Homo sapiens: one gene and its partners. The protein of the gene in region 1 interacts with the protein of each later gene in a pairwise test. Each region holds a gene or a part of one and is shown in the gene's direction. Other genes may lie near its edges. The genes, in order: CRX, SOX10, SOX3, SMAP2, C1orf50, SAE1 and CTNNA3.

Region 1 (4,155 bases):
AGGATAAGCGAGGACAGAGGGACAGAGATGAGGCTGGAGTTACAGGGACAGGTGGACAGGCAGAAAGACAGCAAAGGGAGGGACAGACAGACAGGAACAGAAGGACATGGAGGCTGAGGGAGAGGGGAGAAAGAGCAAGATAGACAGGGAGACACAGAGAAAAAGAATAAGAGAGACCAAGGGGATAATGCAGGTTTATCAACAGAGACAGGGACGGAGAGGAGCAGATGGAGAATGAAAGAGTGGTATTCAGGAAAGTAGGCAGAAATGCCACAGCCTAAGGCCCACAGGAAAAGAAACTGAGGTACAGAGAAGCCAGACAAAGACCAATGGTGTGTAGAGAGATGGTGAGTGCTGGGTTTGTTGGCTCACGCCTGCAATCCCAGCACTTTGGGAGGCCGAGGTGGGAGGATTGCTTGAGGCCAGGAGTTTGAAGCCAGCCTGGGCAACATAGAGCGACTCCATCTCTACGAAAATAAAAAAATTAGCTGGGCATCGTGGTATGTGCCTGTAAAGTCTCAGCTACTGGGGAGGCTGAGGAGGGAGGATCCCTTGAGCACAGGAGGTCAAGGCTGCAGTGAGCTGTGATCATGCCACTGCACTCCAGCCTGGGCGACAGAGTGAGACCCTGTCTCAACCAAAAAAAAAAAAAAGGAAAAAAAAAAGAAAAAAATCCCAAACCCCAAACTCCACCAAAAACAGAAAAACAAAACACCCTTTCTAATAAGTCTGCCTATTTTCAGTGCTGGAAGCAGCCCCTGCCACCTCCGCCCCCAAAAAGAGGAGAATATCATGTCTGACAACACAGAGACAGAGAGGCCACAGACAAGACTTGACCAAGTCAAAGAGAGAGAAACAGGGGAAACTGAGGCAGAAACCGAGACCAATGAGGCACTACAGAGATAAACTAGCTGTCGGACAGACTGTTGTGGAGAGAAAGGGGGACCCAGGAGAGGGATCCCGAAAGCTCCGTGCCTCTCTTTTTTCAGACGATCTCTCAGGACCATCTGACAGTGCTCTCCTTCCTCTTTGATGCCTCTCTCTTGGGATACTAGCTGAAGCTGGAGAGACACCAGTTAGACCTAAGGAAGGACTTCCCTGAGGAGTAGGGGCTTATGGTCACCGGCAGGAGCTGGGGCCTCCCTTCCCCATCAGCCCTAATTGCCAAGATGTCATGGGGGGAAGAGGAGGGGATTAAGCAGACGGGTGCCCCTCCCCCTCCCAGCCAATGTCACCTCCTGGTGCCCAGTCGAGTCCCCCACCTTGGCCGGGATTACCCTCCGAGTTCCAGGCCATGACAAATGACATCACTCCCGGCCCAGGCTTAAAATCTCCCCATGTGAGGGGATGTGTTTCCTTCAGCCTCTGCTGTCTGGCCGCTCTGTCTAGGTCCTGGGCCACGGGAGAGCCCCGTCCCTCCTTTCTGAAGGTGAGCGTCTGCAGGAGAGGCGGAGGGGACCGAGGAGGGGAGAAAAAAGAGAGGGGAGAAGTTGGGTTTATCTTATTCGTGGCTGTGTTTGCCGTGCTCTGCAGGTGATGTTTGCTGAATAGTCACACACAAAACAGAGGTGCCGTCCTGGCATTTGTGGAAACGGGGCTAGGCTGTGATTGCAGCAGGAGGGAGTAAGGTTAGACAGCAGGGACTGGCTGATGGCACTCGGGGCATTGGGAGGATTCAGGGTGGCTTGTGGGCAAGGGGGTCCCCTCAAGCCCTGACGGCATCCGGGGTTGGGGGCTTCTCACCGTGGTTCTAAGGCAACTCCTCAGCATACCGCTCTGTTGGATGTTCTTTAAAACTCTTAGCACTGCCTGAAATTTTCATTTGCGCGATGATCCACAAATGGCCTGTCTCCCTCCCTTGTTGAGCACTGATTTTTCCCCAGTGCCCAGCGTGTGGTTGGGATTTGCCTAAATATGTGTTGCATAGATGGATGGATGAATGACAGACAAGGGACGGAACAGACATATACGCAGAGAGCCCAGGTCTGTGGCTGCAACAGGAAGAACTCCGGGTGGACTTGGGCCTGCCCGAGAGAGCCAGGAATGTGATGACTGGGGATCACTGTGCTGGTGAATTGATCACTTAGGGCCTCAATGCACCCAGAGGCTCTGGCTTTCAGCCCAGGCTCTACTTCGGGACTGGGGAATCCTCACGCCCCCGCCCTCTTAGCTTCCAGCACAGTCACTCTCTCTGATCTTCTTTCTGCAAAGTTTTTTTTTGTTTGTTTTTGAGATGGAGTCTTGCTCTGTTGCCCAAGCTGGAGTGCAGTGCCACGATCTCCACTCACTGCAACCTCTACCTCCTAGGTCCAAGGAGTCCATCCACCTCAGCCTCTTGAGTAGCTGGAATTACAGGCGCGTGCCCCCATGCCCAGCTATTTTTTGTATTTTTAGTAGAGATGGGGGGTCTCTCCATGTTGTCCAGGCTGGTCTCGAACTCCTGACCTCAAGTGATCAGCCCGCCTGAGCCTCCCAAAGTGCTGGGATTATGGGTATGAGCCTCTGCGCCCAGCCGGTCTCCTGCAAAACTCTTGATTGACACCTTGTTTCCCGTCTGCCCCTGTCAGGAGGGCTGAGGCCTTGTCTGTCTTGCTCTCGGCTGTATTCCCAGTGCTTGGGTCAGTCCTAGACACACAGTGAGTGCTCAGTGAATATGCAGGGAATGAATGAATGAATGAAGGGCAGAAGGGTAGAAGCAGGTAGACAGACTGCCACAGAGAGGAGGTGTGATGCGGTTTTCCCAAAAGGAACGAGCGAGGGCTGTGATTGCCACAGAGTGAGGTCCGACTTCAGGGCTGCCCACTGTGTGTGAATTTCTGGATGCTTCAGGGATCACATTGTTGATCACGGAGTTGATTTGCTCAGGCTCTAACTGTGCCGTGGATCCCAGCTTCCCCCAGGTCTCATGGCCGGCAGTGGGTGCATCCACCCAGCTCCTTGTCCCCGCTGGACAGAGGAGCCAACAGAGGCTGCAGAGAGAGGCTGGAGTGGCTGACAAGGGAGGGCCCTGAATGTGGCTGAGCTGGGAGGGTCTTGCCAAGGGCTGGCATGAAGCCACATGAGTCTGGTTTTTTTTTTTTTTTTTTGAGACGGAGTCTCACTCTGTGGCCCAGGCTGGAGTGCAGTGGCATGACCTCAGCTCAGTGCAACCTCCACCTCCCAGGTTCAAGCGATTCTCCTGCCTCAGCCTCTCAAGTATCTGGGATTACAGGCGTGCACCACCATGCCTGGCTTATTTTTGTATTTTTAGTAGAGATGGGGTTTCACCTTGTTAGCCAGGCTGGTCTCAAACTCCTGACCTCAGGTGATCCACCTGCCTCGGCCTCCCAAAGTGCTGGGATTACAGGCGTGAGCCACCACACCCGGCCGAGTCTGCGTTTAAATCTTGTTCTTTTCTCACTGTGTGGCCTTGGACCCCTCATGTGGGCTCTCTGGGCCTTGGTTGCCTCCTCTGCAAAGTGGGGACAATGATAAGCTGTCACCATGATCCAGCCAGATGAGCCATATTGCAGGCCTGGCCTGCAGTGGGAGCAGGGCAGGAGACCAGCCTCATTCTGTTTCTAGGGTCCCTAGGTAGACTTGGGGGTGAAGAGCGGGGCTCGGGGGCCAAAGAGATTTAAATTTTACCCCTGGTTCTTCCACTCATCACCTGTGTGACCTCGGGAATTGACGAAACCTCTTTCAGCCTCAGTTTCCTCCTCTGAGAAAGGGACCTCTGAGCTCCGTGGGGCTGTGGGGAGCATCCTAAGAGGCCATATCGCCGGGTGATCAGGAGGGCACCGGCTCCGGGGCAGGTGCTGGCCCAGCTCTGGCTCTGCCGCTGACGTGCGAGACAGAACTGGAGACTACACTTCTCTCAGCCTCAGTTTCCTTCTCTGTAAAGTGGGGATGATACCAGAAGCCGCCTGGGAGGAAGTTTCCATGGAGTTACTGTTGCCTGAGATCTTGTTCCCAAGGTCCATGGTGCATGCAGTGTGTGAGAAGCTGGGGCCCCCTGGAGGTCCTTAAGGTCATCAGCCACCTGAACTGTGGGCACCTCCCTCCCTCCCAGGCTCAGTCTCCCCCGCTGTAGAATGGAGTTATCTGCATGTCTGCCCCACCAGGTGGCTGTGAGCATTCAGACCTCACCTGTGGGAACAACTGCTCAGCTGGGAA
Region 2 (3,977 bases), on another chromosome or scaffold:
TTGGACTTTCCCAAGCATGAGGCCTTGCCTCCCCAGACCCTTTGCAGCCCACTCCAGACAGGACCCCTTGGGGTGGTCTTGGGGCTTTGCCCTGCTGTTGAGGAGCTCAGAACGTCACATGGTTGCCAATGCGACCCCAGCTCCATTACATAACCCACATACACCCCACCTCGGCCTCAACACCCCGGCGGGGCTGCCCTCAGTTAAGAGAACAGCACTGCGACCTTTGGAGGAGAGGCCAAGGAAAGAGAGAGAAAAAGGTGTCAACGGAGGATGGGCAGGAAAGAAAAGGGGAGGGAGGGAGAGGTGGGCAGAGGAGGGAAGAGGCAGGGCAAGTCCCCACCCCTTGTTGGGGTGGGGGAGTAGAGGACTTCGTGACAATCAGGACTAGGACTCCCCTACCCTCTCCCAAGACAGGGTGAGCCCAGTGTGGAAGGAGCTGGGTCCCAGTAGGTAGCAACCCAAAATGCCTCTAAGACCTACTGAGAGAGGGCCCCCAACCTGTCCCACCTTGGCCTCCTGGCAGCTTTAGTCTTGTGTTTCCACCTTGAACCAGACCAGAACGCGCGTGTGCTGGGTGTCTGCAGAGAAGGGACCAGGGGTCAAGCTGGGGCTCTGCACTTCTCAGAGGGATCCCTGAGAAGTCTCTCTTACTGTGCAGGATGGGGCAGAAAGGGCTGCCTGGGAAAAGGTAGGAGGCAGGGTGAGGAGCTGGGCATCAGTGCCTGGCACACACTAGGCACTCAACAGGATTTCGCAGACGAAGCAGCTAGGGCCAGCCACCCTCACGGGCCCCCAGGACCCTCACCGCCTTCACGTCTCTCCCTAGTCCCCTGCCAAGTGCCCATCCTGCCACCTGAGGCAGACGTTAGGAGTCCTGGTTGGGCCCAATTTTCTTCCATCCAACAGGTTCTGACCCTCCAGCCTACATCTCTTCCTTCCTCGGCCTAACCTCCCCTCCACCTCCCAGACTAAGCCCAAGATAAGCCTCAGCAAGATGGGCCTGGGCAGTAGGGCAGGGAGCTGGGTGGGGGGGCCTGGGCTCCGGGTGGAGGAGCCCTGAGTGTTGGGGATGAAGGAAAGCCTGGAGGCTCCACCTTCTGCCCTTCCCTCCCTCCTCTCCCCTCCCCCCTCTCCCCCTCCTTCCTTCCCCAGCCCTCCGCAGCGGCTCAGGCTCAGTCGCTCAGTCAGTCTCGGGCTGTCCGGCCAGGGTGGTTGGTGGTAAGGATTCAGGCTCCGTCCTAACGAGGCCGTGGCCTGAGGCTCAGGGCCCCCCGCCCCTCCCTCCCAGCCCACCAGCGTCACCTCCCAGCCCCGAGCTGGACCGCACACCTTGGGACACGGTTTTCCACTTCCTAAGGACGAGCCCCAGACTGGAGGAGAGGTCCGAGGAGGTGAGTGCGCAGCCTGCTCCTCCCTGGCCCGCCCAGGCCTGGGACCCTGCTGTGAGGTGGAGAGAGGCGACACCCCGCCCTTGCCCCCCACCTGGCTCTCCTCTAAACCCCGTTGGGGCAGGCTGAGGGAAGAAGGAAAGGTGAGAGAAAAGGTGGGAAATTCCAGGGGCCGGGATTAGAGCAAAATAAAGGCTCCGTTTTTTTCTTCCTTATCATCAACAAACCTCCACCCAAAAAAGGAGGCTAAAAAAAAAGCCACCCACACCAAGAGACGGTTGGGACCAGGTGGTGGGAAGACACAGAGGCGGGACGCACCCACCTAGAGTCTGGCATGTGCGTGGGCCCCAGGGGCCAGATGGGTTTAGCTGGAGCAGGAAGGGCCGCCACCTCGGGGCTGTGCCCACGTCCTGTCTCGGGCCGCCCTCGGGGCTGCGCGCGCGGCCGCTCCATCGCGCCCTCCTTCCATCCAGGTGGGCGTTGGACTCTTTGCGAGGACCCCGGCGGCTGGCCCGGGGGAGGCGGCCGAGGCGGCGGCGGCGGCGGCCGGGGGCGACATGGCGGAGGAGCAGGACCTATCGGAGGTGGAGCTGAGCCCCGTGGGCTCGGAGGAGCCCCGCTGCCTGTCCCCGGGGAGCGCGCCCTCGCTAGGGCCCGACGGCGGCGGCGGCGGATCGGGCCTGCGAGCCAGCCCGGGGCCAGGCGAGCTGGGCAAGGTCAAGAAGGAGCAGCAGGACGGCGAGGCGGACGATGACAAGTTCCCCGTGTGCATCCGCGAGGCCGTCAGCCAGGTGCTCAGCGGCTACGACTGGACGCTGGTGCCCATGCCCGTGCGCGTCAACGGCGCCAGCAAAAGCAAGCCGCACGTCAAGCGGCCCATGAACGCCTTCATGGTGTGGGCTCAGGCAGCGCGCAGGAAGCTCGCGGACCAGTACCCGCACCTGCACAACGCTGAGCTCAGCAAGACGCTGGGCAAGCTCTGGAGGTGAGCACCCGACCGCCCCCCGGGCTCGGGCCCTCTAGCTTCGGGTGGATTCAGGGTAGCCGAGGCGGCCCGGCCTCCTGCACCTCAGAGCGGGACTGTCTGGCAGTCCTCCTTGGATAGGGCTGGAAGACCAGGTGTGGGGGCCGCGCCCGCCCTTCCATCACAAGGACCCTGGAACTCGGAACTCCAGCGGCCTAGGCCGGGTCTCCCTACGGGGCGGCGGGCAGGAAGGCGCCCCCTCGTGGTTGGAATTTTGCGGGTGGCAGACCGTGGGGCCTGGGGCTTTGGAGGGAGGGAAGGAGGCCTTCACTAACTCCTGCCCACAGATACGCACACTATGCCACCAGCTGCTGTGGTCAGGAGGATACGAGGGAAACGCTTGGAAAGAACCAAAGGGTTGGCTGGAGATTCAGGGAAACTGAGGCAGTCAGATGGAGAACTCAGGGGAGGTTTAAAGAAAACGGAATTCAGATGAGAGTCTTTGGAAGAGTGAGGGATGAAGAACTGCGGGACAAATCTGCTGCTGCGGGACCTCATCCTATCCTAGGGCTCTTCCCTGGGACTTTCTGACGCCACCCTCCTTTGAGTTGGGGGCTTCTTCATCCTCCTAGGGAGAGGACACACAGTAAGGGGCTCCCCCTCCTGCCCTGCCCCAGAGTCACCAAGCTGATCTCTTTCCTCCCTCTCCCAGTTCGGCGCCATCTTCCCTGCCAGGGCCCCACCCCAACGTTGAGCAACCTCTTCCCCACTGCCCCAGAGCTGGAGCTGAGCACTCTGGCCAGAAGGAAACCTTGGCCTCCTTCCTGCCCAGGGGCCCTCAGAGTCCCAGGTTCCCTGGGACCAGCCCACACCTCTAGGAAAAACATCCCCCGCAGGGAGCAATTATCCCACCCTCGACTCAGGTCTGGGGTTCAGCCAGGCCTCCTGGGGATGTGTGGAACAAGACAGTCCCCCACTCCCACCCGGGAGTGCCAGAGCAGCTCTGAAAGAGACCAGGGACTCCAGGAGATGTGAGCCGGTAGCAGTCACCTGATTCTCGCTAGACTGACCAAGAGACAGGCCCAGAAAGGCAAAGGAATCACAAAGGTCACATAGAAGTTGGTAGCAGAGCCAGGGCCAGAACCCAGGACTCCCATACTCTCTGTCCAGAGGACTTCCCCTGACCCTGGTGACAGTGGTGGATCACCTACACTTTGAGGAGTGGTCAGGAGGTTGGGGGGAAGCAAGAAGATGAGAACAAGAGTGAGGAGCATCTGGGTTCCAGAAAATTAGGGCTTTGTCAGAGGAGCCCGGCTCTCTTCCGCTGCCCTCCCCCTTGCCAGCCACAGTTGGGTAGAGATTGGGTCTAGAGGCTTAGAGTGGTAGAAGGTGCAGGAGGATCTCCAAGAGACCAAAAGATTCACATCCCGCCCCCTGGCCTGTTCTTGCCATGTGTTTGCTGAAGACCTGGTGCCCCTTCCCCTGCCCCTTCTCAGCCCTCAGTGCCCTGCTCACCCAGGGCAGGCCCAGGGCTCAGCGACCAGCCCGCTGTGTGGACCCAGACAGCCCAGTTCTGCCCAAGAGCAGAGGTCACAGCTAGCTCCTCCACCCAAGGTCCATCC
Region 3 (3,990 bases), on another chromosome or scaffold:
CCGTATGGACACCTTATTTTAGTTTCTGCCAAATCTGCCGGGATGGCTTCTCATTCCCACTCGCTACCTCGGGCTGCTCCGAGAGTTTCAAACGCTGTGCCACTCGCTTCAGCTGGCAGTGGCGATTATCGGGGTTTCCTCTCCCCGCAGCCAGAGTTCCCGCGCCGCTAGTCTTTGGCAGATAACCCAACAAGCAAGTGAATGTCCCGCTCCGAATCTCAGGAAGTCTCTAAAACAATAAAAGAGACGGACGGAATCCGTTAGCAGAGCCTGCTCCCGGGGGAGGCGGCGAGGCTGCGCGCCCAGAGTAGCGCTCAGCGGTCCCGGCAGGTGCGGGGGCAGTGGAGGGGGCCCGGCGGTTCGCCCGGAGGACGGCCTCGGCTCCGCTCCGGCCAACGTTCCCCCCTCCAAGAAACTTTTCTTTCACTCTGAGAGGCTCCGTGTTGCCATGAAAACGGATTTTCCAAGGGGCCCGACCCTCCCCCTCAGGGGCATCGGACTGGAAAAACCGAAATGGCCACAGAGCAGAGACAAAAAGGGGCCGCTAAGCGGGGGCCAGGATCGAGAGAGCGGAGGCCAGTTCACCCCCTACGTCCCACACATACTTTCCACACCACCTTGTGCGAGCGCCTCCGACAGGCTCAGGAGACGGGCGACTGACTGCTTGCCCGCCCTCCTGCAAACCCCCAAGAGCCTCACAGCCGAATGCACCCCGCAGTCCTGAAGCCTGTCTCCCATGCCCGGGCCCCTGACCCACGCTGCGTCCTGGACGCACTGGCCCTCCTAGAGAAAGATCTGGACAACCAGCGGCCAATTCCAGGGAGAGCTTCTTGGAGACGCAGCCAGGAGCACTTCCAATGAGCCTGGAGTCCCTAAGCCGGCCTGGGTAGCTGGTGGTGCCCTGCGTTCCTAGCGCTGGCAGCAGAAGCGGCCAGAAAACCTCCGTGCAGACAACGGGAAGCTTTGCGGGCTGGCCGGGGGATGGGGCGCCGGTCTGCCTTGACAGGGTTGCAAAGTTGTTTTCTAAATTCCGAAGGCGCCCCTCTGCCCCCTCCCCCCAATCTGCTTGCGTGCCCCCTCCCCCCTCCCCCCGTCACCTCCTCAGGTTTCGTTCTTTCAAACTTTTTGAAACCCTAATTGGTGGCCTCTGAGTGGGCCTCGTGGACTCCCGCCTCCTAAGTAACTCTTACCACGTCACTAGGCCAAAGAGGGGCGTGGGGTGAACGAAAGGGCTCCCCGAACTTTTTTTTTTCCAGCCAGGCCGAACGGGGGCTCGGTAATGATTGGCCAGGGCGCATCACTGCGAACCTGTCAATCACGGGTCCTCCGGGTTGCGAGGGGCGGACCAAGCCCCAACCCCGGGGAATCCGAGCAGGTATATAAGGGGCCCAGCTAGAGCCCAGGCAGACTGTGAATGCGACCTGTTCGAGAGAACTCATCAGGTGCGAGAAGCCCGCGGGTTCCTGCTGATTTGGCGCGGAGCATTTTGATAAGCCTACCCTTCCCGCCGGACTCGCTGGCCCACAGGCCCCCAAGCTCCGCTCCGACGGAGTCCCAGGGCCTTTTCACCGTGGCCGCTCCAGCCCCGGGAGCGCCTTCTCCTCCCGCCACGCTGGCGCACCTTCTTCCCGCCCCGGCAATGTACAGCCTTCTGGAGACTGAACTCAAGAACCCCGTAGGGACACCCACACAAGCGGCGGGCACCGGCGGCCCCGCAGCCCCGGGAGGCGCAGGCAAGAGTAGTGCGAACGCAGCCGGCGGCGCGAACTCGGGCGGCGGCAGCAGCGGTGGTGCGAGCGGAGGTGGCGGGGGTACAGACCAGGACCGTGTGAAACGGCCCATGAACGCCTTCATGGTATGGTCCCGCGGGCAGCGGCGCAAAATGGCCCTGGAGAACCCCAAGATGCACAATTCTGAGATCAGCAAGCGCTTGGGCGCCGACTGGAAACTGCTGACCGACGCCGAGAAGCGACCATTCATCGACGAGGCCAAGCGACTTCGCGCCGTGCACATGAAGGAGTATCCGGACTACAAGTACCGACCGCGCCGCAAGACCAAGACGCTGCTCAAGAAAGATAAGTACTCCCTGCCCAGCGGCCTCCTGCCTCCCGGTGCCGCGGCCGCCGCCGCCGCTGCCGCGGCCGCAGCCGCTGCCGCCAGCAGTCCGGTGGGCGTGGGCCAGCGCCTGGACACGTACACGCACGTGAACGGCTGGGCCAACGGCGCGTACTCGCTGGTGCAGGAGCAGCTGGGCTACGCGCAGCCCCCGAGCATGAGCAGCCCGCCGCCGCCGCCCGCGCTGCCGCCGATGCACCGCTACGACATGGCCGGCCTGCAGTACAGCCCAATGATGCCGCCCGGCGCTCAGAGCTACATGAACGTCGCTGCCGCGGCCGCCGCCGCCTCGGGCTACGGGGGCATGGCGCCCTCAGCCACAGCAGCCGCGGCCGCCGCCTACGGGCAGCAGCCCGCCACCGCCGCGGCCGCAGCTGCGGCCGCAGCCGCCATGAGCCTGGGCCCCATGGGCTCGGTAGTGAAGTCTGAGCCCAGCTCGCCGCCGCCCGCCATCGCATCGCACTCTCAGCGCGCGTGCCTCGGCGACCTGCGCGACATGATCAGCATGTACCTGCCACCCGGCGGGGACGCGGCCGACGCCGCCTCTCCGCTGCCCGGCGGTCGCCTGCACGGCGTGCACCAGCACTACCAGGGCGCCGGGACTGCAGTCAACGGAACGGTGCCGCTGACCCACATCTGAGCACCGGCCTGCGCTCGTCCACCCTTGTTCCCCACCCCCACCCCCACTCCCGCCCCGCACCCCCAAGTTGGGACGCCTTGTTTAGCTTTGCTTGCCTGGGACTGTTGCCTTGTACCGATGATGGGGAGGGCTGAAAGTTTTGCTGTAGCTGTCGGGTTTTGTACAAAAGCAAAAATAAGTCAGGAGCAGCGAAAATGGGACTTCTAGAGAGCTCTCTTGCCCCACGCCGCTGCTCCTTTCACCTTTGTAGGCTGGGAATCGCTGTGTTATTTGCAAAGAAAAAACAGCCCCCACTCCTCCTCCTGAGTTCCAGGGTTATTCTGTTACATTTGAAAATGTTGTCTTGTTAGTTTGCAGTTAGCCAAGGAGTGAATGGGAGAAACATAGTATCGGGTGAGGCCAGCTGGAGAACTGCAACGCCTACGCCCCCAGTCGTGTCGCGTCTGTTTTCCTCGTGGTTTTTTGGGGCGCTGACCGCTCCAAGCAGCGCGGCAGCTAAAGCCAATGTTAATTTATAGCCAGGTGTGCGTGTGTCTCCCGCCTCGCCGCCCCTGGCCGCGGGACAGCTTCTGTCCAATCATGTTGAGTTGGTGATTTCTGCCGTGATCTGTTTGATATTTCTTCGCGCTAATGTGTTCAGATTTCGTTTGGGTAGTGGGGAGGGGCTACTTTGTTTCAGGGTTTTCAAGCTTTTACTCTTAATTCCTAAATGAGATCAATAAATTTTATAACCAACATGATGGAGTCCTGATAATTTTGCGGCCCTGAAACTTTTTTGCAGGTTGGGGAGGAACCAACACTCGGTTTTACAACTGAGATCCCATCCTAGGGGCGGGGTGGGACCTGGGGGGAGGCAAGCATAATCTGAAATGGTTTCCTTTTAACTACTGGTGATCCACCATACACCAGCTTCCAATATTCTCAACTGAAACTCGGAACAGAGTTCCGAGTCTTCCAGGAGCGTCTCCCGAGAGCGGGCACACAGTAGTAGCTAATGCGCAGAGCCCGCGGCCGCGCACTTGTTGATCGCAGTGAGCGTCTGCTGAAAGTGTCTGCTGCCGCAGCCACGCGAGGCGGGGCTGGAAAGGCGCGGCCGCTGAAACCGACCAAAAACGGGGCACTTTTACCTTTGTGCACTGGGGCGGGAAGACATTTGAGCCTAGCTGAAATATTTACAAAACGAAAACCCTTCGGAAATCTCGATGATCCTATTAAAAATAAATGGTTACAGGGAT
Region 4 (3,500 bases), on another chromosome or scaffold:
ATAATGGACAGATAAAACATTTTTAACTTAAATGAAATGTCGTGTTAAAGACATACACTTTGTATGAGAAAAACAGCTGCATGTATTGATTATAAAATTATTTTAGAGAAAATGAAAATTAAAGTGAAATATCCATACATACTCTCACTATCTTTGCTAATAATTATCTTCTTGGTGTGTTCCCCTTTTTTTCTAAATAGTTTCTTTTTGGAGGCATAATTATAATACAGTTATGTAGACTTCTCGTGCCTTCATTCCACTTAACATATATTTCTGTGTTGCTTATATAGTGTTTATAATTTTTAATTGTTGCATCATCTTTCAGTGAGTAGCTAAATCACTGAAAGTAATAATTTATTTACCATTTCCCTTCTGTGGCATAAATGTTATTTAATTTTTTTTAGCATAAATAATTCTGGGGTGAACTTGGTGCATTTAACCTTTTTCATATTTTGGACTATTTTCGTAAGATACATTACAAGATATGGTATCATCTAGGTCAAAGGATTTCAACATTTGTCTCTTCCTAGTTTTGCCAATATACTTTCCAGAATTTGTACCATTTTACTCTCTCTTCTCAGCATTGTATAAGAGTACTGGTTTCACTTCATCCCTCCCACCATTATAGAAAGATCTTTCTCCCTGCATAAAGTGCATTTTAAATTGCATTTTTTATCACTGGCAAGACCAAACATGTTTTTCATATGTATGCTATACTCTGTATTCTTAAGGTTACTTTGTGGTTTTGTTTTACATTTAGATGTTTATTTGATTTTAAAACTTAATTTTTGTTCTTCTAATCTGTAAACTTGAAATTAAGGTTTATTTTCTGACTGTTAAAAAAATGAATATTGAGAGGACCTATGATTGAATTTATGATATCACAAAGGACATAAGCTGAGTAAGATGAACTTATTCACTAGTATACTGATATGAGGGGAGACCTCTCAAAGCATGGGCAAATTAAATTTGGGGCACAGGTGGGCAGCATACTGGTAAAATGTTTTAGCGTCTGTACATAGCCTCGACTGCAAATGTCAACAGTCATGAGTGGGTTAGGAGGGCGGGCGCCTAAGGTGTTTGGAAGACGCCTCGTACAGCATTGAGGCCAATGTGGAAGAGGTCAACTCTCATGCTCCACACCAAGACACCGCCCCCCAAGCTTGTCAGACACTTACGTCAGAATCAATAGGGATTGGAGGTGTCCTTTTCGGACACTTGGAATTATGATTTATCCAACTATTAGTCACCTTGGGCCCTGTGTTCTTTGTCTTGTTAAATCATTATAGAAAGAAAAAGATGACAAGTGGAAAAGAGGGAGCGAACCAGTTCCAGAAAAAAAATTGGAACCTGTTGTTTTTGAGAAGGTGAAAATGGTAAGTTGGGAAGTATTTGCACTGTATGGACAGCCTCAGGTATGTGTATATTTGTGAAAGGGAAAGTAGGAGGTCTCGTGGTGAGTACCATTGCACCATCACAGCTGGGGCTAAAGGGTTCTGCATCTGGATTGGACTGCCTGCTATCATTTCTGCTCTCTCGTTACCAGTTGCTGCCTAAATCTGCTCTGTAAGGGCTTCGCTTTGGGGCCAGATGAGAACTCAGGAAATGCATCTGTTCCATCTAAGCAAGAGGCACATTCCAAGCCAGAATGCCAAGGCTGAGGGACACCATCTGAGCAGATGCTATTTCCACATTAGTCCTTCTCTTGTTAGACCTTCTGTATCCCATTTTCTGATTTCAATGAAGAACAGTCCAGAAGTGAGGCCATATTAGTCCATTTTAAGTGATCCCTTCTTATGTTCTTGCTTTGTCATGTTGAAACAGACACCCTTCTTTTTCCACAGGACATATTGTGGCTGTAGTAGTAGAATCTCTAACATAAAAACTTGGAATCTTGGGAGAGAGGACTTTACTTACTATTGCTTAAGGAAGAGTCTTTTATCATCGTTCTGAATCACATTGTCTGTGGACACAATCACTAGTGATACTGGCAGAGTGAATTAGGTAATCTTTAAACCAACCTCCCTTTTGGTGTTAAAGTAAAAGGTTTTCTAACCACTGGGAGATTTGTTGGCTCTTGGCTCTTGTACCATCAGATACCTACCTTTATTCTTGGCTTTTCCTGGGACCAAAAACTGCTGCTTCTGTTGGATCCCCTGTTCTGTGGTTGTCTTGGTTTCAGAAAGATCTGTCTCTTTAGGACACCAGACAATCACAGGCGATATCTTTGTTTTTCATTTTAGGTTTGGTTTATGCACTTCTGCCTCCTGACTTGATTCTTTCACCTAATACTTCCTGAGTTTTGTTTCTTTGGTAACTCTCTTTGAATAACAGCAGCCCTACCCACAAGAACACCGTGGCTTTACAGTGGAGATGGGAAAAGAGTTCAAAACCACCTGCTTATTTCTTGCTATAACATATTTTCACCTTAGCCACAGAAAAAAGAAGACCCACAGCTACCTCGGAAAAGCTCCCCGAAATCCACAGCGCCTGTCATGGATTTGTTGGGCCTTGGTAAGAGTTGGACTTTTCAGCTTCCATGTTCTTACAAATTTTGATAAATTCTCAGTGACCCTGGAAGATAGGTAGAGATGGGGTTCTCCAGTTTTGTCTTCATTGCCAAGACTGTTCTCTCACATTCTTCCTGATCTGTTTTACATCTGAGCAGTTGCTCTAAGGAAGTGTTTACTGTGACACTTTTCAGAGCGACAGTGTGGTGTAGTGGTTAAGAGCATGGCCTTTGGAGCCAGTGTCGCTCTGTGTTACTTACTGTCTGTGTGACCATGGGTAGTTTACTTAACCTCTGAATGTTGCTTTCATAATCCGTGCAGTGAGAATGAGTCTCTACTTCAAAGGTGTTGTTGGAAGGATTAAATGAGATAATGCCTCTAAAGCTCTTAGCCCCATGCCTGGCACATACTGAGCCCTCCATAAATGTTAGCAGTTTTGCTAAACAGCACCTTTGAGCCTCATGTCAATTCCCTGTACTCCACTCCCTGCCCCCATTCCTTTCATTTTTCAGATGCAACCTGTTTCTGAGATGGCCTGTGGTCATTTTTCTCCAAACCTTTGAAATCCTGAACTAGTGATTCTGCCCTTTCAGAAAGAAAGCCTGTTGTCTGCCTTTCACAGCACTGATGGTTGCACTTTGTTTCCATCCGCTTCTGCTGATTGAGGTTATTGGCTACTTAGGCTTCTAATTTCTGTACCTTTCCTTGCTCTCTGAAAATGAACCCTCCTCCATACCTTGCCCTTCAAATAGCCAGAAGGGAGCCAGCCAGCCCCCCACTGTGGTGCTGAAATACCCTTCAGGCCTGGGCGTCTGCTGCCCTGTGCCTGATAGCTGGGCTACAGGCTTCCCCAGAGCACTCTGGGAATGTGGGGTGAAGCCTCTTTTGAGAAGCCCCGTCCATGCTAGATGGTTCCAGAAGTCTAGATTTCTAGGTCCATGAGCTTATGGGCCACCTTTGCTTTTTGTCTAGAATAGAAGGAAGGCATGG
Region 5 (2,743 bases), on another chromosome or scaffold:
CCATGCCCAGCTAATTTTTTTATTTTTAGTAGAGACAGGGTTTCACCATGTTGGCCAGGAGGGTCTCTATCTCTTGACCTCATGATCCACCTGCCTCAGCCTCCCACAGTGCTGGCGTTTGAGCCACCATACCTGGCCTGTTGGCAGAATTTCAATTCCACAAGGGTTGCTGGCTTCCGGGGTTCCACTAGCTGACTGTTGGCTGGAGGTTGCCCTCACTTCCTTGCCACACGAGCCTCTATAACATGGCAGCTTTCTTAAGCAAAGTAAACAAGGATTAGAGTCTGCTAGCCAGATGGAAGTTACAGTCTCATGTAGTCTGATCACAGAAGTGACATTTCATCACCTTTGCCGTAATCTTTTGGTTGGAAGCAAGTCACTAGGCTAGCCCATATTCAAGGGAGGGAGTTATACAAAGGCATGTATACCAGAAGGCAGACATCATTGAATCATTGAACAGATCCTAGAATCTATCTGCCACAGTGCTCAGTTGAGAAGAAGAAAGGAAAATTCTAGGTAAAAAAGGCAATATTACTAAGTGGTTAAGTGTGATGATGTCAAAGTCACAGATCTGCACTTGACTGTCAACTCTGACAAGACAGCCTCCCAGCTGGCATCCCTGCTTCCCCCTCTGTCCCCTCTCCAATCCATTCTGCATGCAGTCATCAGCTTGATCATTTGAAAATGCCAAATCTCCCTCACTCTTGACATTTCCTAACCTAAAGAGTGGGAGAGTAGTGATTGAAAAGAGAGAAACTGCCTTCTGTTCAGTAAGATGTACTCCCTGCACTGACCACCAAGGGGTGTCATTGCTCTTTCCTGGTTAAGCCAGTTACCACACTTGGGAAGGGCTAGTGGCAATGTGAGGTGATTTGGGGCACCTCAGAATGGGAAACTAGGACCCAGTGATTATATACAGTAATCACTTTTCATTTACCCATCCATCTGTTCACCTGATAATTTCATTAGTGTTAAGTGCCTTCTAGGTTCCAGGTTCTGGTGAATAATGGAGCTGAATAAGAAATCACAATTTCCAGGGAGCTCACAGTATAGTAGGGAAGGAAACAAGTTAACAATTACAAGATGCTCTAAGAAGGGGTGTGATAGAGGTACGCATGGAATACTATGGAGCTCCGGGGAGGGGTTCCTTACTGAGCTTGGAGAATTTGGGAAGACACTTGGAGGAGCTGATGCCTGCTTGGTGTTGAAAACCATACAAGTTAGAACTTTCTGGAGGCTCCAATTGCCCTTTCATAGGAAGTTTGTCTTTTGGGGGTTGGGGTAGGGTTCATTTTTGGATGGAGTTTATTTGTGAATGAAGAAAGTGACAACCATTTAAGCCATATCAACCAAAGCAGTCCTGGCAATGAGGAGGGGTGGAGTGAGATATGTCCTGGCTAGAAAATCCTTGTGTTTAAAAGCTAGGAGATAGTTGAAGACAGGGAGGAAAAAACATTCCAGACAAAAAATAACATGGAAGGGACATTGACCAGAATTGACACGACATTTGGGGAATCGCAGCCAGTTAAACAGGAGAATATGGACTGGGGAATATGAGAGAAGAACTAATGGAAGGATTTGGGGAGGCTGGTAATATTGGCAGCAGAGTTTGGGTAGAGGGAAGACAGGAGATTCCATCCCTAATCAAGGCAAGGGATGATGGGAGTCTGAATTAAGCAGTAGTAGAATGAGAGGGCCTGTATTTCACCAATTACAAGGTGTACTTCCCCCCCCCCCCCCCCCACATTTTGGTGTCTGTCAAACTTGGACACTTCTAAAAGTCAATGGCATGTCACAGTTTAAGTGGCATTTTTTCTTTCTTAGAGCTACATAAAAGAATCATAACAAGCTGGGCGCAGTGGCTCACGCCTGTAATCCCAGCACTTTGGGCGGCTGAGGCGGGCGGATCACGAGGTCAGGAGATTGAGACCATTCTGGCTAACATAGTGAAATCCTGTCTCTACTAAAAATACAAAAAATTAGCCGGGCGTGGTGGCGGGCGCCTGTAATCCCAGCTACTCGGGAGGCTGAGGCAGGAGAATGTCGTGAACCTGGGAGGCGAAGCTTGCAGTGAGCCGAGATTGCACCACTGCACTCCAACTTGGGCAACAGAGCAAGACTCCATCTCAAAAAAAAAAAAAAAAGAATCATAACATAGCATCTTACATTTGATGAAGCATGGCACATTGAAAGTACAATCGATTGCCATCTTGTTAATAAAATGTCAGAGGGATTAGAGGAAAGACTCTTAGATGATGCTTGAATTTCTGGCTTGAGTGTCTGCATTGAATAGTGGGGATCCCCTCAACAAAATTTTCAGGAGGAGGAGGATATCCCTGTTATTTTCCAGAATAATCAGTGATACTCTGTGATATTGATAATCTACCTTGTTGGCCCTTACCAAATTACTGGGTGTGAGTAACAGCTGACTGTAGCTCCCTTTCTCTACCCTAGTGCTCTGGAAGGAGGAAAGGAGAGCTGGCTTGTATCTTACTTTCTCAAGTTATCAGTCCACAAACATGAAGAGTATTAGTGTTACAGATACAAAGATGATAACTACTGTCTTATGAGCCTTTATTCTGCTAAGTGTATCCATTATCTCTTTTAATCTTCACACAACCCACCATCAATGAGGTATATAGTATTCTTATGTTACACAGCAGGAACATCTCAGAGATTCTGAAACTGGCCCGTGGTTATACAGATGGGAAGTGGTAGAGGTCAGATTCAGACACAGTCCTGT
Region 6 (3,500 bases), 620 kb from region 1:
TCTCTCACCCCATTCATCTTTGTTTCATGCCCTCCCCATTTCCACCTCATCCCATTTTCTCTGGCCCATCCAGGTGCCATTCAGCAAATGACCTTGGAGTGCCTGCTCTGTGCTTAGCTCACAGTTGGCCATAGTGCCTCGAAGGTGTGATCTGCTCTCCCCTAACTGTATTAGTTATCCAGTGCCTGTTGTATTGGTCAGGGATTCTGCTTCTCATAGCTCTATAAGTGAGTACTATCATGATCCCCACTTAAGAGGAAGACACTTGGGCCCATGAAAGGGACTCCAGAACCTGTGCTCTTAACCTCTGTACAGTTTATCTCTATTCATCACCATGACATCAAAGCCCTCCCTTTTTTTTTTTTTTTTTTTTTTTTTTTTGAGATGGAGTCTCGCTCTGTCCCCCAGGCTGGAGTGCAGTAGCACGATCTCAGATCACTGCAAGCTCCACCTCCCGGGTTCACGCCATTCTCCTACCTTAGCCTTCCAAGTAGCTGGGACTACAGGCGCCTGCCACCACGCCCAGCTAATTTTTTTGTATTTTTAGTAGAGACAGGGTTTCACTGTGTTAGCCAGGATGGTCTGGATCTCCTGACATCGTGATCTGCCCACCTCAGCCTCTCAAAGTGCTGGGATTACAGGCATGAGCCACTGTACCCAGCCGCACCCCCCCCCTTTTTTTTTTTTTTTGAGACAGAATCTCACTTTGTCTCTCAGACTGGAGTGCAGTGGCATGATCTTGACTCACTGCAACCTCCGCCTCCTGGGTTCAAGCGATTCTCCTGCCTCAGCCTCCCGAGCAGCTGAGAGTACAGGTTCCCACCACCACACCAGGCTAATTTTTGTATTTTTAGTAGTTCACCATATTGGCCAGGCTGGTCTCGAACTCCTGACCTTGTGATCCTCCCACCTCAGCCTCCCAAAGTGCTGGGATTATAGGTGTGAGCCACCGCACCCGGCCAAGCCCCCGTCTTTTTAACCACACACTGTAGGTATTTGTAGAGAAATCAGTTTCTGTGTCCCCATGAACACACCAGGAGCCCCTCAAGGCTCTGTACAGGATGACCCGTGACCCTGTTAGGTAGGTGTTAGTGTGTCTCTCAGAAGGGAAGCATCTTATACAGGGTCACATAACCAGTAACTAGCACAGCCTTTTGAGGGTCTTCTGGAACATTTGGGTTGCTAAAACTATACCATACCCCCAAATATATTGTACATTCTTTGCAGACTTTGCTATTTGCCCGAAGATGTTAAATTTGCCTTTTGCAGGTTCTTGGCTGCCTTCGTGGACTCCGGTGAGGCTTTTTCCTTCTTTCTTATGGAGCAGAGTCGTGCCTGGTTAAATGATTGGCCATGTCCATGTACATGTCAAGTTTGAGCTTGGGAGGACAGTTTGGAGGCCAGCCCTTAACACTTTGTCTTGGGGTCTGTACATTCTGGAGGCGTTTGGCTCAATTTGTTAGTCACACCGTTTTCCTAAGGCTACTTTTTTTTTTTTTTTTTGTCTATTTTTTCTGATCCTTCTCTCTGGTCTAAATTCTTCCTTTGATCAAATCTAACTTTCTTCTATGTAATGGGCACCGAGGAGATATTTGGAGGGGGAAGAAAAGTGTGCAATGGCCATACCTCTTTCCTTGCTCACATTTTATACATAGCCCAGAGTGATGTGAAAATTACAGTTTATATGCCCAATCTGAGAAGAGGGTAATGGCCACCCAGAGGACTGTTCGAGCAGGATTCTGAGGCTCCCTGTAGACAAACTGCAGGAAAGAGTGCAGCAATGGGAATGTTCTAAGTGGGGAATGGGAATGTACATATTTTTGTAGCCTAAAATGACGACACCACCAATAATAGACAAGACTTACTGAAAGCCCACTGTCTGCCACACAAAGACAGTGTTTTTTACGTGGATACTCATTTCATCTCCCACCGGCCCTATGAGGTAGGAACTCCTGTGATCCCTGGTTTATAAAAGAGAGACTAAGGTGCAGGAAAGAAGATGCTTGCCCAGGCTAGTGAGTGTGGTGCCAGGATGTGGGCCCAGGCAGTCTGGTTTCTGAGCCTGTCCTCTTCACCACGGGGCAGTCATGCATCAGGTGTTGCCTTCAATGGCACCATCATGTAGAGACTGCATGGACCCCAGGGCCGCTGCCCTTGCATTGTCAGCCTTACTTCTGCACATCCCATTGAGGGGCTCCCCCTAAATTTTTCATGTGGGATGGAGACTGGAGGTTGGGGCAGGTAGCCTTGACCCCATTGTTGGTGGTAGTTTCTCACATCCCCATCCTCACACAGCCCCCTCCTTCCTGCCTGCTGGAGACAGCTGGTGCCCAGCATCTTGTTTCTGTTTATCCCAGATAGCCAGAGTACTCTGCATTCTTCGTTGCTGGGTGTGTTTGGAATCTCCTCCTACCCCATCTTGCTTGGGAAGCACTTTACCTTTTGCCCCATGTCACCCCATGCCCTGCTCTCATCCCCAGTACTCCTTCATACTTATTACTGGTCAGCCTTCAGCCAGCTGGCAGGCGGGGCCTGCAGTCCAAGGGCCTCAGACTCACCTTTCTCTCCTGAGGCACTGTCTGAGCGCCTATGGAAAGCTTACACTAGGAGATGGGTCAAGCGCAAGTCTGCTCCTTTGGAATCATCTTTTGCGTCTTTCCTTTCTTACGTCCTTCTAGATACCCTATTTTATATCCATGTCTACTTCCTTGGGTTTAAAGCAGTTTTCCTTTCTCTCCATCCCCACCGTCCACGGCAGGTCTCCCTGTCTATGGTAAGAGAGGTGATAGTGAAAGCAGCAGCCATCCCAGGTTCATGGTAAAACACATACCATCTCCTGTATCTTGGGTTTGAGGGTCTAAGAGTTCCACCTGTGTACTGTTGGACCCTTCCACCTGGCTAGGTTGGTGGCATCCCCAGTATTGGTAAAGGACTCCTGGCCCTATTATTATTAATAGCAGCTCCTACTTACTAAGAATTTACTACGTGCTCGGCACTTTACAAGCCTAGTCACATTTCATTCTCACCAAAACTCTAGCAGGCAGGTGCTTTTTATTTGCCTATTTGCCCAGAGAAGCAAACTTCTTTCTGATCCAAGCTCCATGTGGACAGAGACCTCAGAATCCTTAATGTCTAGCTGAATACCTGGCATAGAGTAGATGCTTAATAAATGTTCCCTTGACTGGGTGCAGTAGCTCATGCCTGTAATTCCAGCACTTTGGGAGGATTGCTTGAACCTAGAAGTTCAAGACTAGCTTGGGCAACATGAGGAGACCTCATCTCTACAAAAGTCCCAGCTACTCAAGAGGGTATGGGAGGATATCTGGAGCTGGGGAGACGGAGGTTGCAGTAAGCCGAGAATGTGCCTCCCACCTGGGTAGCAGAACAAGATCCTATCTCAAAAAATTAAAAACATTTACAAATAAATAAAATTTCCCTGGAAAAATGGCTGACTAACACTATTTGTATATGGTAGATGTGATTGTCCCTGTTTTATGGAT
Region 7 (3,173 bases), on another chromosome or scaffold:
GAAATTCTTCCCAATATTAGAGCCAATCTGGGTTACCATACGTTCATATATTTAACAGCTATTTGTTAAACAACTGTGATGTTCCAGGCACTGTTCTAGGTTCTTAGGATACACCATATAACAAAACAAATAGTGATCCTTGCCCTCATGTGCCAGCTCTGTGTTAAATGCTAACTATTATCTTATTCAATCCTCCAAATAACCCTATAGGATATATATCATTCCACAGACAAGGAAGCTGAGGGTTAAATGGGATAAGAATCTTGCTCAAAGTCTCACTGGCTTTAAAATATTAATATATATTTTACATCATTCAAGACAGATATATAATTAGCTGAATATTCTCACCTCTATTAACTGAATGTAGAGTGTCAGGTACATGGGAAGTAAGTTATTTACGTGATCTGAAATAAGAGGACAACCTTTGCCAAATTACTTTTATTACCATGGAGAAGAAAGCTTCAATGAAATGCCTGTTTCAGCCCATCTTCAGTATTGGTTGGTTAATACCATTTGTTAACACCAATCCTTTCCTCTTTTACTGCTAACATGTGACTGTGTTTAAAATTATAGATTGCAGCAGAGTGTTGGCCAAGGATTATTGTAGTAGGATAAAGTTTCCCTGTATTTGAAATTTACCCAAACTGTAGCAAATACATCTTTCCTTCTTTATGGAGGTCACACGTGTGCATAGTATGTGCCTGAATACAGGTAAACTTTGTGTTTTAAAATTACATGGCCTTTTTTAGAGTCGACTGAAGGCTAGACTCTTCTTGCCCATGTTGCTGGATAGGCTTTCAAATCTCAGGCCTTGGAGAGTTAAATGACTTTCTGATATTTCTTACGGTGGAGCCACATAAGAAATACACACATTCCTAGTTTGAGCAATGGATGTGTATATTGGGGATCTTCACTTTTATGTATCTGGTAGTCATGATGGTGCCTATTCCCAACTGTAGGAAAGGAAAGCCCTCAAGGAGAAAATTCTCTTTCAAAAAGGCTCAGATTTCTAACAATTATGTCTAAATGTTTCTTCAATTTAGAACATGTACAAAAGCTACTTAATATTAGCAGAGTAGTTCTTGTGTTTTCATTTCAAATGAAATATTCCCAGTTCCAAAGTTTATTTCCTTGGCATTTTCAAGAAGGATGGTTATTTTTAGTTCTGGTTATTTGGTGTTGGAGGTCTGTGACACTTCCTTATACATTTAAAGCCCCCTTTGAATAGTTGTATCAATAGTTCAAAAGCCTGTAGATATCTTGCTTTTCTATTCTGACAGCCCAGCTTCTGCAGACTCAGGCCAACCTTAGGTATGTCACATCAGTTCCCCATCTGTGTAAATTACCTGAACCTCTCTGTGGTATTCACTGAGAGTTGAGCTTCTACTAAGGGATTTCCTTGACCTGGGCTTTTAACACCAGATTTGTAGTGGAGTGTTTATTAGTAAAGCAAAGGAGTAAGTCAGAGATGCTAGCCCCTGCTCTCAGTTAAACAGAACTATCCTCCTTCCTGAATATTTAAACATAAAATTAATTTTAAACTACTATAAAAATCATGTTCCATTGCTTGCCAAATCTTATACCATTATAATGCTGTATTTTTACATGTTAGTATACATTGTGTCCATAGGGATATAAATATGAGAATTTCAGCAACTGTCTTGCAGGGTTAAGATGTGCTATTTGTTGATTTTGCAAATTTTTCTCATGTGGTACAGTCCCTCCAAAGAAAATTTCCTTAGACCTAAATGGTAGCATAATAATTTCTCCTCCATATCCGTGACTAACAAGTTCCTGAAAACAGAAGTAGACATATTTTATGCCCAATTTAGTACCTAATAATTGAGGCTTAAAACAAAATTTTCTTGGGCAAGTTGGGTGATTAAATATGAATTAAAACTTCTAGAGAAAGATTTCCAGATGCCCCTGTTTTCCATTTTGATTATGGTTTTAGTTTCATAGCAACTTGGGGGAAAAAAATCATTTACTTTATGTCGTATTACAACAACAACTTTGACAGCTTAAATGTAGTGACCTCTCTGAAGGTAATATGCACATTATAATTTAGGATGAAAGCAGATTTAAACTAAGACTTTCTGAGATGAAATAAAAGTAACCAATTCATAATAGTCATGTTTATTGCAGCAATATCTTGGGAACTTAAGTTTAGTGGCGTTTGAGGTGTTTCTGACTATCTTGCTTGTTCATTTCACCCTGCTCTGCAGAGACAGAATATGATTGAATGAACTGCCCATTATATTAATGACCAGTTCAAAGCAGTTTTGTGCTTTGGCTATAGATAAAATTTGGCAAAAATACTGTAGGCCTTTCTGGTCCATATTTATCCTTAAAGTATTTTTGCCAATCAATAAAAATGAAATATTTATCCAGAAATAGAAAAAGCTCTTTCCTATGACATTGACATAGAAGCCCAAATACTCCTTGTTTGAGACCCTGCATGTCTTTTGTGTTTAACTGAATCAATGATTTTTTTTAGTTGTGCTCTTAATTGCATTATTTCACATATGTAACACTGGGTTTGTTTTGGTTATATAGTATTATTTTACTTTATTCTAATTTCAACTCATGTCACTCTGTAGCTCATTAAGAATTTGTTCAACTGAAAATTAAAATGTGTGTTAAAGCAATAAAAATGAAAAGATTGGCTATGCATTTTATGTTGATATTTGGTGGCGGATTTCTTGGGTGGGATGAAAAAAATGGAGATTAATAAATTGCTGAGTAGTCCAACCATGTGTTTCTAAGTGTCACCTTCACTCTCATCCTCTTTCAGTTTTATATTTATAATTCAGGAAGGCACTTTTCCAAACTACTGCATGCACACAAGTAATCTGAAGCATATCTGATAGAATTAAATTCATAGTCTAAATGAGCATTTTTGGTCTAATACAGGCACTAGTCTTGGGCATTAGACATGCCTTTAATAGTTCTGTGTAGCTCAAGAGTTGTTCTTTAGCTTAGGACTTTATGAAAATGATCAATAACTTTTCTGAGAATGTCCGAACACATACTCCCTAGTGGTCATGGAATACCATTGGTTCTACCAATGCTCTTGTATCTAAAAATTGGTGGGTTTTTAACATCCATCTTGGCCTCCTCATTTTTAGGCTGATAATAATCCTTTCTCAGTATGAATCCCATGGGGTTAGCCT

What was found.
Region 2: the proteins of CRX (region 1) and SOX10 interact in binary tests that used the Homo sapiens proteins (3 or more experiments, as listed by UniProt).
Region 3: the proteins of CRX (region 1) and SOX3 interact in binary tests that used the Homo sapiens proteins (3 or more experiments, as listed by UniProt).
Region 4: the proteins of CRX (region 1) and SMAP2 interact in binary tests that used the Homo sapiens proteins (3 or more experiments, as listed by UniProt).
Region 5: the proteins of CRX (region 1) and C1orf50 interact in binary tests that used the Homo sapiens proteins (3 or more experiments, as listed by UniProt).
Region 6: the proteins of CRX (region 1) and SAE1 interact in binary tests that used the Homo sapiens proteins (3 or more experiments, as listed by UniProt).
Region 7: the proteins of CRX (region 1) and CTNNA3 interact in binary tests that used the Homo sapiens proteins (3 or more experiments, as listed by UniProt).

The regions. Positions count from the first base shown.
Region 1 is NC_000019.10:47,820,582-47,824,736, forward strand, and holds the start of CRX (cone-rod homeobox protein), read left to right. Parts: upstream 1-1,355; 5' UTR 1,356-1,429; intron 1,430-4,155. UniProt on the Homo sapiens protein: Transcription factor that binds and transactivates the sequence 5'-TAATC[CA]-3' which is found upstream of several photoreceptor-specific genes, including the opsin genes.
Region 2 is NC_000022.11:37,981,756-37,985,732, reverse strand, and holds the start of SOX10 (transcription factor SOX-10), read left to right. Parts: upstream 1-1,177; 5' UTR 1,178-1,394; intron 1,395-1,864; 5' UTR 1,865-1,948; coding exon 1,949-2,376; intron 2,377-3,977. UniProt on the Homo sapiens protein: Transcription factor that plays a central role in developing and mature glia.
Region 3 is NC_000023.11:140,502,485-140,506,474, reverse strand, and holds SOX3 (transcription factor SOX-3), read left to right. Parts: upstream 1-1,405; 5' UTR 1,406-1,414; coding exon 1,415-2,755; 3' UTR 2,756-3,490; downstream 3,491-3,990. UniProt on the Homo sapiens protein: Transcription factor required during the formation of the hypothalamo-pituitary axis. May function as a switch in neuronal development.
Region 4 is NC_000001.11:40,411,727-40,415,226, forward strand, and holds part of SMAP2 (stromal membrane-associated protein 2), read left to right. Parts: intron 1-1,289; coding exon 1,290-1,376; intron 1,377-2,432; coding exon 2,433-2,514; intron 2,515-3,500.
Region 5 is NC_000001.11:42,777,249-42,779,991, forward strand, and holds the end of C1orf50 (uncharacterized protein C1orf50), read left to right. Parts: 3' UTR 1-2,243; downstream 2,244-2,743.
Region 6 is NC_000019.10:47,203,835-47,207,334, forward strand, and holds part of SAE1 (SUMO-activating enzyme subunit 1), read left to right. Parts: intron 1-3,500. UniProt on the Homo sapiens protein: The heterodimer acts as an E1 ligase for SUMO1, SUMO2, SUMO3, and probably SUMO4. It mediates ATP-dependent activation of SUMO proteins followed by formation of a thioester bond between a SUMO protein and a conserved active site cysteine residue on UBA2/SAE2.
Region 7 is NC_000010.11:65,912,023-65,915,195, reverse strand, and holds the end of CTNNA3 (catenin alpha-3), read left to right. Parts: 3' UTR 1-2,673; downstream 2,674-3,173. UniProt on the Homo sapiens protein: May be involved in formation of stretch-resistant cell-cell adhesion complexes.